2 separate regions of the Homo sapiens genome follow, and region 2 is linked to region 1. Evidence: fine-mapped QTL for protein levels in blood plasma. Region 1 holds a variant in brackets. A gene starts in the other region. All regions are shown on their forward strands.

Region 1 (8,324 bases):
ACCAGAAGGCCCCATTCTCAGGTGGCAGAGACCCTTGAAGAGTTGGGGCAGCACAGCCCTTGCTGGGGAGCGGGGTGCCCAGAATGCCCTCTCCTACATCCCGCTTGGCACCCGGCCGCACTCCTCACCAGGCCGGGGGTAGAAGCCCTGAGACCCCTGTGGTGGGGTGACCAAGGCCCAGCAGAGGGCCCGAGGATAGGAAGGAACCTTTCCCGGCCAGGGGCCCTGTGCTGGGCTCGAAGCTGCTTCCAGGTGCTTCTTCAGGGGCCTTCTCTCGAGGGTAGCTTGGGCAGCCTTCCCCCTCCGGGGCCACTCACCCCTCATTCCCCGCTGCTCCCTCAGAGGGCAGAACCCGAAACCACGGCCACAACGTCTGCAGCACCTGGGGCAACTTCCACTACAAGACCTTCGACGGGGACGTCTTCCGCTTCCCCGGCCCCTGCGACTACAACTTCGCCTCCGACTGCCGAGGCTCCTACAAGGAATTTGCTGTGCACCTGAAGCGGGGTCCGGGCCAGGCTGAGGCCCCCGCCGGGGTGGAGTCCATCCTGCTGACCATCAAGGATGACACCATCTACCTCACCCGCCACCTGGCTGTGCTTAACGGGGCCGTGTGAGTGTGGTCGGTGGCACCCCTCCCACATCCTAGCAACGGGGGCTGATGTTTCCCAAAGGGATATTCCTTGTAGCCCTAGAAGACCCCTTCCGCCCCAGCACACAGCTCAGGAGAACAGCCTTGAGGTTTGGGTTCAGGTCACTAATTCATTCAACAAACACTGATGAGCCCCCACCATTCCCCCCATAGGCAAGGGGTTTCAGTTATCCCTTTGCCTGTGTGTCCCTGACAGCCCCTCCCCTCGGAGCCCACCAGGCTCCGGACAGACTTGGCACCCCTGGAGGCTGCATGTCTCTGGTCCTGTGCATGGAGTGGCCGTGTGTGCCCTCCCCAGGCTAGAGTTACAGAAGCCGGTGCAGGGGGCTGTGGGACCCCCTTCCCCATCCCCAGCTATTGCTCCCCTATTGTCTCCAGAACAATGAGGCCCTGTAAGTGCGTTCCCATCCAGCGCCTGCCCCTCTTCTGCCTGGGGATTTAGTTTCCTGCAAGGCGCCCCAGCATGGGCATGGGCAGGCGGGTGGAGGCCCTCAGGCATGGGCATGGGCAGGCGGGTGGGTAGAGGCCCTCAGGCGTGAGTGCGGGCGGGTGGGTGGATAGAAGCCGTCAGGCATGGGTGCAGGCGGGTGGGTAGAGGTCCTCAGGTGTGGGCATGGGCAGGTGGGTGGGTAGAGGCCGTCAGGTGTGGGCGCGGGTGGGTGGGTAGAGGCCCTCAGGCATGGGTGCAGGCGGGTGGGTGGGTAGAGGCCCTCAGGCGTGGGCGCGGGTGGGTGGATAGAGGCCGTCAGGCGTAGGTGCGGGCGGGTGGGTAGAGGTCCTCAGGTGTGGGCGCAGGTGGGTGGGTGGGTAGAGGCCCTCAGGCATGGCACAGGTGGGTGGGTAGAGGCCCTCAGGCATGGGCGCAGGCGGGTGGGTGGGTAGGGGCCCTCAGGCATGGGTGTTGGCAGGTGGGTGGGTAGAGGCTTTCAGGCATGGGCAGGCAGGTAGAGGCCCTTGAGGACCGAGGCACAGAGGCTGGGGTGAGTGCCTCTACCTGGACCAGCAAGGGGCACTGGCAGGAGGTGGGGTAGGGCCCCTGACGTTCTCAGGGGCAGCCTGGGGGGCTCTGGGGGGTTTGGGACCCCATGGGGGGATGTTCCACCAAGCAGGGGGCCTGGAAGGGGGCTGGGCAGCCTGGTCCTCCCTCCTCTCCCAACCTGGTGCCCTCAGGGCCTCTGAGGGGGGACCCTGCCCAGGACCGTGCCCCGAGGAGGGAGTGGAGAGGAGGGGCGTGCAGGCAGGAGGTGGCTCTGCCGGGGAAGCCCGGCCAGCGGAGATGGACAGGTGCTCTTTGGCCACTGCCTATGTCCCTCCACCCCAGAGGCCGGCCAAGTTGGTGATCCCAGGGCAGGAGCTGGGCCTGGCAGAGCCATCTCCACCACCCCAGGTGCCCAGCTTCAGTCCCCTCTGGGCGGCGGGGTCCCGGGAGGACAAGCTGGGGCGGGGGGGCCTGGGTGGTGGACCCAAGAGTGACCCCGATGTGCCTCCGCCAGGGTCAGCACCCCGCACTACAGCCCCGGGCTGCTCATTGAGAAGAGCGATGCCTACACCAAAGTCTACTCCCGCGCCGGCCTCACCCTCATGTGGAACCGGGAGGATGCACTCATGGTGCTCAGGGGTCCCCGGACTCGTGGGGCTGGTGGGGGCTCCGTCAGGCCTCTGGGCAGACCCCAAGGGAGGGCAGGGAGGGCAGTGCTCTGACCCCTCACCGAGAGGGCATGGGTGGGGCAGGGCCTCGGCAGCGCAGGGCGTCGGTGCTGGACTTGGGGGGCAGCAGCAGAAGCCGACCTGGCCCTGACCCCCCCAGGCCTCAGCCTTCCCCCAAACGCACTCGGCTTCTCAGGGACCTGCCCTGCCAGGCCGCTCCCTGGCTGCTGACCCCAGCCTTCCTGCCCCACCTTCCTCTGGCTCAAACAAGCCACGAGTCTTGGGGGTTCCTGGCGGCTGTGGGCCGGGCGGGAGGCCAGCTCACCTGCTCCCTCCCGCAACAGCTGGAGCTGGACACTAAGTTCCGGAACCACACCTGTGGCCTCTGCGGGGACTACAACGGCCTGCAGAGCTATTCAGAATTCCTCTCTGACGGTGAGGCCCGGAGGGCTTGGAGGGGGCAGGGTAGGCTACGGGCCCCCAGGAGCCCTAGCTGAAGGGCCGTGCATCCCCAGGCGTGCTCTTCAGTCCCCTGGAGTTTGGGAACATGCAGAAGATCAACCAGCCCGATGTGGTGTGTGAGGATCCCGAGGAGGAGGTGGCCCCCGCATCCTGCTCCGAGCACGTGAGTCCCCTCGGTCCGGGGTGGGGGTCCTGGCGGAGCTGGCCTCTGAATAGCATGCTCACCCTGCGTCTGTCCCCAGCGCGCCGAGTGTGAGAGGCTGCTGACCGCCGAGGCCTTCGCGGACTGTCAGGACCTGGTGCCGCTGGAGCCGTATCTGCGCGCCTGCCAGCAGGACCGCTGCCGGTGCCCGGGCGGTGACACCTGCGTCTGCAGCACCGTGGCCGAGTTCTCCCGCCAGTGCTCCCACGCCGGCGGCCGGCCCGGGAACTGGAGGACCGCCACGCTCTGCCGTAAGCCCCGGCGCCTTGTGGGCAGGGGACCCCAGGGAGACCCCACGCTGGTGCTTTCCCCAAGCCCGGGTGGGAGCTGTGTCTGTGCCGGGCACCTTGAGCTGGGGGGACACTCACCGCACCGGGCACCTTGAGCTGGGGGAACACTAACCGTGCCGGGCACCGGGAGCTGGGGGGACACTCACCGTGCCGGGCACCTTGAGCTGGGGGGACACTCACCGTGCCGGGCACCGGGAGCTGGGGGGACACTCACCACGGGCACCGAGAGCTGGGGGGACACTCACCGTGCCGGGCACCGGGAGCTGGGGGGACACTCACCGTGACGGGCACCGGGAGCTGGGGGGACACTCACCGTGACGGGCACCGGGAGCTGGGGGGACACTCACCGTGCCGGGCACCGGGAGCTGGGGGGACACTCACCACGGGCACCGGGAGCTGGGGGGACACTCACCGTGCCGGGCACCTTGAGCTGGGGGGACACTCACCGTGCCGGGCACCGGGAGCTGGGGGGACACTCACCGTGCCGGGCACCGGGAGCTGGGGGGACACTCACCGCGCCGGGCACCGGGAGCTGGGGGGACACTCACCGTGCCGGGCACCGGGAGCTGGGGGGACACTCACCACGGGCACCGAGAGCTGGGGGGACACTCACCGCGCCGGGCACCGGGAGCTGGGGGGACACTCACTGTGACGGGCACCGGGAGCTGGGGGGACACTCACCGTGCCGGGCACCGGGAGCTGGGGGGACACTCACCACGGGCACTGGGAGCTGGGGGGACACTCACTGAGGGCACCGGGAGCTGGGGGGACACTCACTGTGACGGGCACCGAGAGCTGGGGGGACACTCACTGTGACGGGCACCGGGAGCTGGGGGGACACTCACTGTGACGGGCACCGGGAGCTGGGGGGACACTCACCGTGCCGGGCACCGGGAGCTGGGGGGACACTCACTGAGGGCACCGGGAGCTGGGGGGACACTCACCGTGCCGGGCACCGGGAGCTGGGGGGACACTCACCACGGGCACCGGGAGCTGGGGGGACACTCACCGTGCCGGGCACCGGGAGCTGGGGGGACACTCACCGTGCCGGGCACCGGGAGCTGGGGGGACACTCACTGAGGGCACCGGGAGCTGGGGGGACACTCACTGTGACGGGCACCGAGAGCTGGGGGGACACTCACTGTGACGGGCACCGGGAGCTGGGGGGACACTCACTGTGACGGGCACCGGGAGCTGGGGGGACACTCACCGTGCCGGGCACCGGGAGCTGGGGGGACACTCACTGAGGGCACCGGGAGCTGGGGGGACACTCACCGCGCCGGGCACCGGGAGCTGGGGGGACACTCACTGAGGGCACCGAGAGCTGGGGGGACACTCACTGTGACGGGCACCGGGAGCTGGGGGGACACTCACCGCGCCGGGCACCGGGAGCTGGGGGGACACTCACCGTGACGGGCACCGAGAGCTGGGGGGACACTCACTGTGACGGGCACCTTGAGCTGGGGGGACACTCACCACGGGCACTGGGAGCTGGGGGGACACTCACCGCGCCGGGCACCGGGAGCTGGGGGGACACTCACTGAGGGCACCGGGAGCTGGGGGGACACTCACCGTGCCGGGCACCGGGAGCTGGGGGGACACTCACTGAGGGCACCGGGAGCTGGGGGGACACTCACTGAGGGCACCGGGAGCTGGGGGGACACTCACTGAGGGCACCAAGAGCTGGGGGGACACTCACCACGGGCACCGAGAGCTGGGGGGACACTCACCGTGACGGGCACCGGGAGCTGGGGGGACACTCACCACGGGCACCGGGAGCTGGGGGGACACTCACCGTGACGGGCACCGGGAGCTGGGGGGACACTCACTGAGGGCACCGGGAGCTGGGGGGACACTCACCACGGGCACCGGGAGCTGGGGGGACACTCACCGCGCCGGGCACCGGGAGCTGGGGGGACACTCACCACGGGCACTGGGAGCTGGGGGGACACTCACCACGGGCACTGGGAGCTGGGGGGACACTCACCACGGGCACCGGGAGCTGGGGGGACACTCACCGTGACGGGCACCGGGAGCTGGGGGGACACTCACCACGGGCACCGGGAGCTGGGGGGACACTCACCACGGGCACCGGGAGCTGGGGGGACACTCACCACGGGCACCGGGAGCTGGGGGGACACTCACCGCGGGCACTGGGAGCTGGGGGGACACTCACCACGGGCACTGGGAGCTGGGGGGACACTCACCACGGGCACCGGGAGCTGGGGGGACACTCACCGTGACGGGCACCGGGAGCTGGGGGGACACTCACCACGGGCACCGGGAGCTGGGGGGACACTCACCACGGGCACCGGGAGCTGGGGGGACACTCACCACGGGCACCGGGAGCTGGGGGGACACTCACCGTGCCGGGCACCGGGAGCTGGGGGGACACTCACTGAGGGCACCGGGAGCTGGGGGGACACTCACCACGGGCACCGAGAGCTGGGGGGACACTCACTGTGCCGGGCACCGGGAGCTGGGGGGACACTCACCACGGGCACCGGGAGCTGGGGGGACACTCACCGTGACGGGCACCGGGAGCTGGGGGGACACTCACCACGGGCACCGGGAGCTGGGGGGACACTCACCGTGCCGGGCACCGGGAGCTGGGGGGACACTCACTGAGGGCACCGGGAGCTGGGGGGACACTCACCACGGGCACCGAGAGCTGGGGGGACACTCACTGTGCCGGGCACCGGGAGCTGGGGGGACACTCACCACGGGCACCGGGAGCTGGGGGGACACTCACCGTGACGGGCACCGGGAGCTGGGGGGACACTCACTGAGGGCACCGGGAGCTGGGGGGACACTCACCACGGGCACCGGGAGCTGGGGGGACACTCACCACGGGCACCGGGAGCTGGGGGGACACTCACCGTGCCGGGCACCGGGAGCTGGGGGGACACTCACCACGGGCACCGGGAGCTGGGGGGACACTCACCACGGGCACCGGGAGCTGGGGGGACACTCACCGCGCCGGGCACCGGGAGCTGGGGGGACACTCACCGTGGGCTGAGAGCCCTTCTCGGTGCACTTCGGGGTGGAGCGGCTGCTGTGCCCCAGCCTCACCCTCACTGCGTGGCCTCTGCGGTTCCAGCCAAGACCTGCCCCGGGAACCTGGTGTACCTGGAGAGCGGCTCGCCCTGCATGGACACCTGCTCACACCTGGAGGTGAGCAGCCTGTGCGAGGAGCACCGCATGGACGGCTGTTTCTGCCCAGAAGGTGCGTGTGGAGGATGGCCCCGCCCTGGCACTGCCCACCAGATGAGAGGCAGCCCTGGCCTGGGGTTCTCGCCTGCGCTGAGGGGACGGCTCCGCTGGGTGGTGGGGGCAGCGGCGGCACAGAAGTGCCTCTCCCTCCACCCGATACCGGGGGAGAAGGGGCCTCGGTGTGAGGCCCTTCCCAAAGGGTGGCTTCAGGGAGGCCGGGAAGGGGGCTGCCTTCCTGGTTATCACCCTGGGGACAGACCTCCTCCTGCCCGGCCCCTGGCCTGGTGCCTGAGGCCTTTGGGAGCAGCTCGATTGTCAGGGGCAGGAAGGTGGCCTGGAGGCTGGACCCCCATGGCCAGACCCCAACCCAGGGACCAGGTGGGGACCGCAGGCGTCAGCACAGGGGACCAGTGGTGCCTGCGGGTGGGAGGCCTGGCTGGCAGCCCCTCGGTGGGGATTCTGGCTCTTTCTGAGCCAGCCGGGGTGACATCGCCTCCCTGGCTGTCCCAGGCACCGTATATGACGACATCGGGGACAGTGGCTGCGTTCCTGTGAGCCAGTGCCACTGCAGGCTGCACGGACACCTGTACACACCGGGCCAGGAGATCACCAATGACTGCGAGCAGTGGTGAGTCCCGGGGCCAGGGCTGGGCACAGCAGAGGCTGGGGCGGCTGAGCCCTGACCCTGTGCCCCGCTGCCCAACAGTGTCTGTAACGCTGGCCGCTGGGTGTGCAAAGACCTGCCCTGCCCCGGCACCTGTGCCCTGGAAGGCGGCTCCCACATCACCACCTTCGATGGGAAGACGTACACCTTCCACGGGGACTGCTACTATGTCCTGGCCAAGGTAGGCTGCCCAGGGTCTGGGGCATGGGGCAGAGCTGGGGCTGGCATCCAGGCCCTTGGCTGTCCCGGGGTGGGTGGGCTGGCTGTCCCTGAAGCAGAGGGTGCCTGTGGGCTGTCCTGGGGCAGGTGACCATGCTTCTGCTCTCTGGCTGGAGAATAAGAAGCAGGCCTTCCTTTCTAAGCCACTGCCGGGTCCTAGGGTGCAGGGTGCTGCCCGTCCCGGCCCTCAGCAGCTGCACTGCCTCTTGCCCCATCACAGGGTGACCACAACGATTCCTACGCTCTCCTGGGCGAGCTGGCCCCCTGTGGCTCCACAGACAAGCAGACCTGCCTGAAGACGGTGGTGCTGCTGGCTGACAAGAAGAAGAATGTGAGTGGTCCTGCCCCCTCCTTCTGGAGCCCCAGGTCCCCCGAGGGGGGCCCTTCTCAGCCCTGAGCAACCTCGGCCTTCCCTGCAGG[T/C]GGTGGTCTTCAAGTCCGATGGCAGTGTACTGCTCAACGAGCTGCAGGTGAACCTGCCCCACGTGACCGGTGAGTTGCGCCCCAGGGAGGGGCCCGGGCCCTTCGAGCTCCACTGGGCCTGCAGTGATTCGGACAGTCCAGCCACCTCGGACCCAGGAGGCTGGGTGGGAAGGTTCCACGGGGGGAGGGTCCCTGCGGCACCCAGCAGGCTCCGTCCTGGGTCCTCTGCTGGAGGGGGTGGTGGGAGGGTGACACCCTCCCGCTGCTCACCTGGGCCAGGCAGGTCCCGGGAGCCCCGCCCCTCGCCATGCCCCTTACCGTGTCCCTCATCGTGCCCCTGCCCACAGCGAGCTTCTCTGTCTTCCGCCCGTCTTCCTACCACATCATGGTGAGCATGGCCATTGGCGTCCGGCTGCAGGTGCAGCTGGCCCCAGTCATGCAACTCTTTGTGACACTGGACCAGGCCTCCCAGGGGCAGGTGCAGGGTAAGTGGCCCCACCGGGGTTGCCCCAACAAAGGCCCACAGGGGGGCCTGCTAGCCCCAGACTCTTCCCA
Region 2 (8,324 bases), not on the chromosome of region 1:
GGCTTCTTCCTGTTGGCAGTGGACGCCATTACAGTGTTTTGGGCAAGATGACCTGGTCAGCTTTGCTCTTTAGGACGCTTGTCCGGGACGCTGCGTGCAGAGTGATTTGGAGTGGCAGGTGGAGAGCCAGGGATATGAGACAGGACACCATTGAGGTGGCCAGGTTGGAGACAACAGTGGCCAGGACTAGGGTAGAGTGGGGGGTGTGGAGGGGCAGGGATGGATTCAAGAGCTATGTAGGAAGCAGAACCTAGACCCTCCATGGGAAGGCAAACAAGGCTGAGGGGTCAGTGCCTGGGATTCCACTGCCGGAGGTTGCTGGGATGTGGGTCAGGGGAGCAGAGATCAAGGCTTATTTAGCCCCCACTGACCATTCCAGACTCCTGTCATGGCCCTCCCCGGCTCCCTGGCCCCACTTTGCCCACATGGCTTCTCTGTTCTTCAGATGTGAGAAGCTTCTTCTTGCCTCAGGGCTCTCACACATTCTGTTTCCTCTACCTGCAGCACTGTTCCACTTGGCTACAGCCTGCCCTGCCCACTCAGCCCTTGGCGTCTCTGATCTCAGATGGATAGGTCACTCTTGGATCCTCTCACAGAACAGAGCATGTGTGGTTCATGGGACTCACTCCAGCAGTGATGATACAATGCTGCTGCCCGTTCAGTACTGTGCCTCTACTTAACCAAAGCTCCTGGAGGACAGGAACTGTATCTGACTCACTCTCTGCCATATCCAAGCACTCAGCATGGAGCATGGCACTTAGCCGCTTGTTAAACTTTTACTGAATACATGAATGGTGAATTAATGGTGAGGTTTTCTTGGATGCACTGACATCCTTAATGGGCTGTTCAATAGCAGTCGGATATAGGAGCTAGGTTCACACTTTGATGGGATGACAGATTACGAAGTTTGTTACTATGAGTGAATCTAGAAGGTATTTGTCTGAAGAGGAGACCTTGGGGTGGGCTGGGATGGTAAGTGAGCTCAGTACTCCACAGGCTGCCCTTGACTTTACTCTGTACTTTGAAGGATGCAAAATTCAAGCGTCCTGGCTCCTTGCAGCAACTAGAATGTTCAGTAGCCATTTCTGCCACGTGGATAGAAATCTAAGGTCCAAAACAAGGAAGGGATCAAATCCCTTTGCTCCCCTCTGTCCCTTCCTCACTGTAACCTGGGACACTGACAGACAGACCTGTCAGTGATCAGATGAGAAATGGAGAGAGGCCCAGGAGCTTCACATGTGCAAGGGTAGGAGGCAGGCAGATGGCAGACCTGCTCAGCCTAAAGGTGCTTGTGCAAGTACAGGAGGTTCATGCAAGTACAGGAGGCCAGAGACAAAGCTATAAGCCCCAAGGACTCTCAGGGAGGCAGACCTCTTGTGTGAGGAAGGACTGTCTTTGTTCGAAGCCATCCAACAACGAAACTGGTAGGTAGTGAGCTCCCCATCACCATGAATGACCTCCCAGTGGGGCTGCTGTAGGAAAGCCCTAGTGGAAGAAGGGAGATGAAACCCAGATGACCATTATTTTTTATTTTATTATTTTATTTATTTATGTATCTATTTATTTATTTTGAGACCGTCTGGCTCCATCACCCAGGCTGGAGTGCAGTGGCGCAATCTCGGCTCACTTCAACCTCCGCCTCCCTAGTTCAAGTAATTCTCCTCCCTCAGCCTCCCAAGTAACTGAGATTACAGGCACACGCCACCACACCCAGCTAATTTGTGTGTGTGTGTGTGTGTGTGTGTGTGTGTGTGTGTATTTTTAGTAGAGATGGGGTTTCACCATGTCAGCCAGCCTGGTCTCGAACTCCTGACCTCAGGTGATCCATGCAGCTTGGCCTCCCAAAGTGCTAGGATTACAGGCGTGAGCCACCACACCAAGCCTATTTTTATTTATTTATTTATTTATTTATTTATTTAGGCAGTTTCTCGCTCTGTCACCAGGCTGGAATGCAGTGGCACAACCTTGGCTCACTGCACCCTCCACCTCCCAGGTTCAAGCAATTCTCCTGCCTCAGCCTCCTGAGTAGCTGGGATTACAGGTATGCGCCACCACGCCTGGCTAATTTTTTGTATTTTTGGTAGAGATGGGTGTCACCATGTTGACCAGGGCTGGTCTCGAACTCCTGACCTCAAGTGAATGCACCCGCCTCAGCCTCCTCCCAAAGTGCTGGGATTACAGGTGTGAGCCATGGTGCCTGGCCCCAAGATGACCTTTAAAGTCCAATTCCCCTTTTATAAGATGGCGTTTTTGCTTTAGGACAGGAAGTCATCATTAAATATTTTCTCTACCTGCCTAAGCAATGGAAAGATAGCTGCCACCTGCCTCAGAGGCATCCCTGGGACTGTGCAGTTTCCTAAGGAGGAACGGAAGGATCTTGAAGCTGAGTCAAGGATCACTGGGGGCCTCAAGCTAGTCTTGGCCACAGGTCTGGGGCTTCTATGGGTCTGTAGAGGTGACTGGATGGCTGGTGTCCCCAAAGGGACTGTTCTTTTTTTAATTAAAAAAAAAATTTTTTTTTAGAGTTGGGGTCTTGCTATATTGCCCAGGCTGGTCTCTAATTTCTGGGCTCAAGCAATCCTCCTGCCTCAGCCTCCCAAGTGTTAGGATTACAGGCATGAGCCACCGCACCTGGCTGGGGCTGTCCTCAAACAAGAATCCTTCGCCTTGTCATTGGAATATTCTTGCAACTTATCTGCAGGCTTGAAATCTTTCGAAATAAAGTTTTTCTTTAAAAAAAAAAAACACAGATTCTGATTTAAATATTTCAGAGCGAAGCTCAGCATCTGTATTTGTAAATTCTCCCCCAGGGAAATCCAATCTGCAGACAGAGCTGAAAAACACTGATCTAAATGAATTAGAGAAACGTGTATGTAAATAAAATGTATTTTATATATCAGAAATTCTTTGAGAGCAAATATCCAAATGACTTATTAATGTATACTATGTAAGTATGGGGGAGTTTTAGAAACTGATTTTTCTTTAAAAGAATCTTGTCTTTATTTAACCTATGAAGATACAGATGAGGCCGCGTGCAGTGACTCATGCCTATAATCCCAGCACTTTGGGAGGCCGAGGCAGGCAGATCACGAGGTCAGGAGTTCGAGATCAGCCTGGCCAACATAGTGAAACCCCGTCTCTACTAAAAATACAAAAAGTTAGCTGGGCAGGTGGCAGGTGCCTGTAATCCTAGCTACTCAGGAGGCTGAGGCAGGAGAATCGCTTGAACCCAGGAGGCAGGGGTTGCAGCCAGCCGAGATCGCGCCAGGCACACCAGCCCGGGCAACAGTGTGAGACTCTGTCTCAAAAAAAAAAAAAGCAAATGAACACATAATACCTGCAAAGCAAGAAGGCATCTTCCTTTTAATGTTTTATTTTGCCTTTGTTTTGCCTGTTAGTTGTGCCCACTTTGCGGTACAAAAAAATAAGTGAAATAAAAGTAAGTAAAAATGATCATTTCTGCTTACGTTTACAGCTCATTTCATATTCTGCAAAATGTTTTCCCGTCTGCTATCACCGCCGCCATCCTCACAGCAGCCTGGGAGAAAGGCAGAGCCAAAAGTCTCATCTCCACTTCGTGCATGGGTGATCTGAGGCCCAGTTAAGAAAAGTGGCTCTACCGAGGTCCCAGAGTTGGTTGCTGGAGGCACTGGCAAAGGAATCCAGGCTCCAGCCCCCTTCTCTGCCTCCTGCCATCTTCCAGTTGCTTTTTTCCTTTCTCTCTTTCTCTATCTCTTTCCCCTTCTCTCTGCCTTGAACTCTCTCTCTTTCTACTTCAACTTTCCTCTCCTTGCTCCAACCCTCAGATTGGAGTCAGCTTTGCAAGTTGTCCAAACTTTTTGTCACTCTGGAAACCTGCCAGCCCCATGGCCACAGCCCCATCTCATCAAAAGCTCAGCATCTGCACCTAGAGCAAGCCCTTTCCGGATGTCAGCGTGCAAAGATTAACTCTGGTCTCTCCATCTGGCCCTAGATAAGATAAGATTAGGAGAGCGGCACTATAAATAGGCCCCCATCCTTCCTCAGGCGCAGGCCCCAGCCAGCTCAGGCTACACTATCCCAGGATCAGCATGGCCGTCCGCCAGTGGGTAATCGCCCTGGCCTTGGCTGCCCTCCTTGTTGTGGACAGGGGTGAGTGGGCAGAACCTGGATTCTCTGTGGCTTTGTGTTGGTAGGTGAGCTTGGGGTGAGAGCAGAAGCAGGGCCTGGAGCACCCTGTGAGGCCTCAGCTTTTTCCATGTACCTTCATTCTGCATATGCACCCTCCACTGTGCTGGGGAAAGTTCTGGGCTGGGAGAAAAGAAACTTGGGTTCAAATCCTGACTGGCGCAGAATTACCAAAGTCCCCTACCCTCTTGGGGCCTCAGTTTCTCCAGCTGTAAAAGAGGGCATTGTTCCAGTTCAAAGCTGCACTGAGCAACTATTGGGCTGGAGGCTGTGGGGACAGAAGGGAGCAGGTAGGTCCCAGCTCTCAGGAGAGACTGACAAGTATGCTGGGTGCAGGGTGGTGGATGCTAAGAGAGACCTGGCCGAGGTCTTCTGAGCTCCCGATCTCTCTGAAAGGCTGTGGTTTGGGACTTGGGCAGCCATGTGAGCACGACAGAGCCCTTTCCCAGGACTGGACACATATACTTGGGGCAGGGCCCTCTCAGGATCTGGGCCATCCCTGCAATCTCACAGCTACCATGTCAGGCACTGTTCTGAGCCCTTAAGACAGATTAGTGACCCAAACAGAAAAAGCACGGTCCTGATGGAGCATAAATCCAATGGGGTAGAGGAAAAGGGGAAAGGCAATAAACAAGATGGTTACAATGTATGTTAAACGGTATGTTAGAAGCTGATAAAAGTTAAGGAAAAAATACTTGGCAGGGTGATGGGCACTGGAAGGGGGTTGCAATTTCAAATCAGGGGAGGTATCTCTGAGAGTCCGATGTTTGAGCAAAGCTTGAAGGAGATGAGGGACTAAGCCATGTGGATATCTGGGAGAAGATTCCAGGCAGAGGGAACAGCTCAGGTGCAAAGGACCTGAGGCAGGGGCATGCCTGGAGTGACTGAGGTACTGTAAGACCAGTGTGGCAGGAGGGGACATTGTACGGAGTGATAGGAGAGGAGATGAGAGAGGCAAATTGGAACTGTACCGGGAAAGACCTTGTTGGCCAACATAAGAACTTGGCTTTTCCTCTGACTAAAATGGGAGGCACTGAAAGCTTTGAGCAGAGAGTTATGTCTTTCAAGGGTTGCTCTGGTTGGTACATTGAGAATAAACTGAACAGGGAAGCGGGGAGACCAGTTAGGACCCGCCTGGACAAAAGCCATAAGTTATAAGGCAACGCCTGGCAGGATCCAGGGCCACTGACCTCATGGCCAGTCCCACACCCATTTCCCCAGCTGGAAACAGACCTGGGCACAGGGGGAAAGGGAAACGGGTCTGGGGACCTGTTCAGGAGCAGCCTGCTTACGCCCAGCCTGGCACCTACACCTACCTACTCCTTGAGCAGTTGGGAACACTGAAAAGCCTGCTCTGAAGAAGTTTGGTTTTTGTTTGTTTGTTTTTGTTTTTGTTTTTTGCACATTTCAGACTACTGCCTGGGCTGAGTGAGGAGGGGGCATTTTGGGTCAAGGTCAAGGGCAGCCTGGGGGTAAATGTAGCTTTTCCCCACATCCCCCAGAAAGAAACTCTGACATCTTAGAGTTCTGAACACCCCCTCCTCCCAATACACTTTAATTTTTTTTTTTATTTAAACAAAAATTTTTTTTTCAAGACAGAGTCTTGCTTTGTTGCCCAGGCTGGAGTGCAGTGGCACGATCTTGGCTCACTGCAACCTCTGCCTCCTAGGTTGAAGCAATTATCCTGCCTCAGCCTCCTGAGTAGCTGGGATTACAGGCACATGCCACCACACCCAACTAATTTTTGTATTTTTAGTAGAGACGGAGTTTCACCATGTTGGCCAGGCTGGTCTCGAACTTCCAACCCCAAGATTTGCCCGCCTCGGCTTCCCAAGGTGCTGGGATTACACCAATGCACTTTAGTATTCAATTCCTGAACACCCACAGTGTAGGACATTGAACCAAGTGCTGCGCAAAGGCAGACATAAAGGAACCCCAAGGAGCTCAGGTGCATAGGGAGGCGGGGTGACCCAGTGAGTGGGACAGTACATGGTGGTGTGAAAGAAGCCTCCATCCAGATCTGCTCAGGAAACTGTTGGGGACGTCAAGGACAGCTTCACTGGGGGGCAGCATCAAGCCTTGAAAGGAGGGTATGATTCGGCGGGAGGAGAACGGAGACGAAGACATTTCAGGGAGGGGACATGGCATGAGCCAAAGCAGGGCCCAATCTAGGACCCGTGAGCAGAGAGGAATAGCTGGGGCATGGAGAGGTGTACTGGGAAGTCAGCCCAAGAAGCAAGTTTAGGGTCAGCTTACGCAGTACCCTAAACATAAGACTAAGCAGCTCAGGTCCATAGGGAGGCTTAGTGATCAGGACAGGGAACCACGGAAGGGCTTTATATTTTTTAAATGCTTTTCTTTTCCCTAACAGTTAAATATCAAGAAATGCACAAATCTTATCACTCGATGAATCTTGACAATGTATACACTCGTGTAACCCAAACCCCCATCAAGATACAGGACCTCTTGAGACAAGGACTTAGGGAAGAAAAATAAATACAGAACATTTCCATAGCCCCAGAAATTCCCCTATGTCAGTCAATCCCTGCCCCCATCCCAGTGCTCTGACACTTTTTTTTTTTTTTTAAGAGACAAAGTCTCACTCTGTTGCCCAGGCTGGAGTGCAGTGGTGCAATCATAGCTCACTGCAGCTTCAACCTCCTGGATTCAAACGATCCTCCTATCTCAGCCTCACAAGTAGCTGGGACTACAGGTGCGTGCCACCACACTCAGCTAATTTAAAAATTTTTTTAAATTTATTTTTATTTATTTATTTATTTATTTTTGAGACGGAGTTTTGCTCTGTCACCCAGGTTGGAGTCCAGTGGCACAATCTTGGCTCACTGCAATCTCTGCCTACTGGGTTCAAGTGATTCTCCTGCCACAGCCTCCTAAATAGCTGGGATTATAGGTGTGCACCACCACGCCCAGCAAATTTTGTATTTTTAGTAGATATGGGGTTTCACCATGTTGGTCAGGCTGGTCTCGAACTCCTGACTTCAGGTGATCCACCTGCCTCAGCTTCCCAAAGCGCTGGGATTACAGGTGTGTGCTACTGCAACCTGCCCTCATTGTTAAATTTTTTGTAGAGATGAGGTCTTGCTATGTTGCCCAGGCTGGTCTCAAACTCCTGGCTTCAAGTGATCCTCCTGCCCCAGCTTCCCAATGTGATTTTTTTCCATCATAGATTAGTTGGCCTGTTCTAGGATTTCACATAAATGGAATCATAGGGTATATAATCTTTTGTGTGTGGTTTCTTATGCTCAGCAAACTATTTTTGAGATTCAGCCACGTTATTGCATGTATCAGTTGCTTGTTTTAATTGTTCAGTAGTGCCCCATTGTATTTATTTATCCATTCTCCTGTTGAAGGACATTTGGATCACTTTCAGTTTGGGCAATTTGACATGGAAGGGTTTTAAGCAGTTCAGTGACAGGTCTAGGTTTGCATTTTGATACCCCAATGCCAGGCTTAAACAGCACATTGGGGTGACTTAGTCTAAGTTTCTGTTTCCCTCTCTCTGTGGAAATACCCTGTAATAGCATCTCCAGGAAAATATAAAACTACATTGCCTTGCACACCTCCAGTGATGGGAAACTCACTACTTCTGGAGAAAGCCTCTTTCACTGTGGCATAGCTCCCACTGAGAGAAAATTCTGCTTCATATGGAACCCAAACCTGCTTCCCTGCAGCCTCCTCACAGAGATGGGCTCTGCTTTGTGAGGTTGAAAAGAGTCCATCTCTCCCTCAGCCCCAGGATAGCCCTTCAGAGACTTCAGGGAGCATCCTGCCCTTCTCTAATTTACATAAACGCCCTTCCTTCCACCTGTGCCATTAGACATAGCTCCAGTTCCCTCATCCACCCATCATGCTTGTCAGTCACATCACAGTTTGCTCATGTCCTTTAAGCAGTTCAGCCAGACCTTGAGGGGTACACCAGTGTATGTAGAAAGAGTCAGGCTCTGGACTGCAACAGACGTGTGGGAAAATCCTACCTCTGCCTTAACAAACTGCATTGCGTCACCTCTTTGAGCCTCTTTCGTAGTTCGTTAAACTGACCTATGCCCCAGGAAACAGATTCTGAGCTATACATGCAATTTACTGGGGAGCGTTCATGGGAGTAACATCCATGAAGGATGAGGGAAGTTGACTTCCAT

Direction of the effects. Positions count from the first base shown, and alleles are read on the strand shown. Strength reflects both the effect of a copy and how common the allele is.
As copies of C replace T in region 1, the plasma level of the protein whose gene starts at base 4,029 in region 2 goes up (strong association).

Evidence for each region. PIP is the posterior inclusion probability: the model's chance that the variant is causal. The UK Biobank Pharma Proteomics Project read protein levels with antibody pairs (Olink). The fine-mapping took linkage between variants from a reference panel, not from the people measured, so its PIPs are less certain.
Region 2: SPINK4 starts here. The variant in region 1 is fine-mapped to the plasma level of the SPINK4 protein (UK Biobank, PIP above 0.99).

What each region holds. Positions count from the first base shown.
Region 1 is chr11:1,075,309-1,083,632 of GRCh38, forward strand. MUC2 (mucin 2, oligomeric mucus/gel-forming) reads left to right here. Exons shown (of 58, transcript NM_002457.5): 2 at 343-613; 3 at 2,146-2,260; 4 at 2,644-2,734; 5 at 2,815-2,924; 6 at 3,004-3,214; 7 at 6,354-6,479; 8 at 6,977-7,094; 9 at 7,173-7,311; 10 at 7,570-7,680; 11 at 7,769-7,838; 12 at 8,117-8,254. Among named protein-coding and RNA genes, the nearest start is that of MUC2, 4.6 kb to the left of the region's middle. RefSeq lists enhancers at 2,513-3,013, 3,039-3,580. The variant T/C (reference allele first, on the strand shown) is at 7,770.
Region 2 is chr9:33,236,139-33,244,462 of GRCh38, forward strand. It overlaps SPINK4 (serine peptidase inhibitor Kazal type 4), which reads left to right and starts at 4,029. Exons shown (of 4, transcript NM_014471.3): 1 at 4,029-4,131. The coding sequence starts at 4,071.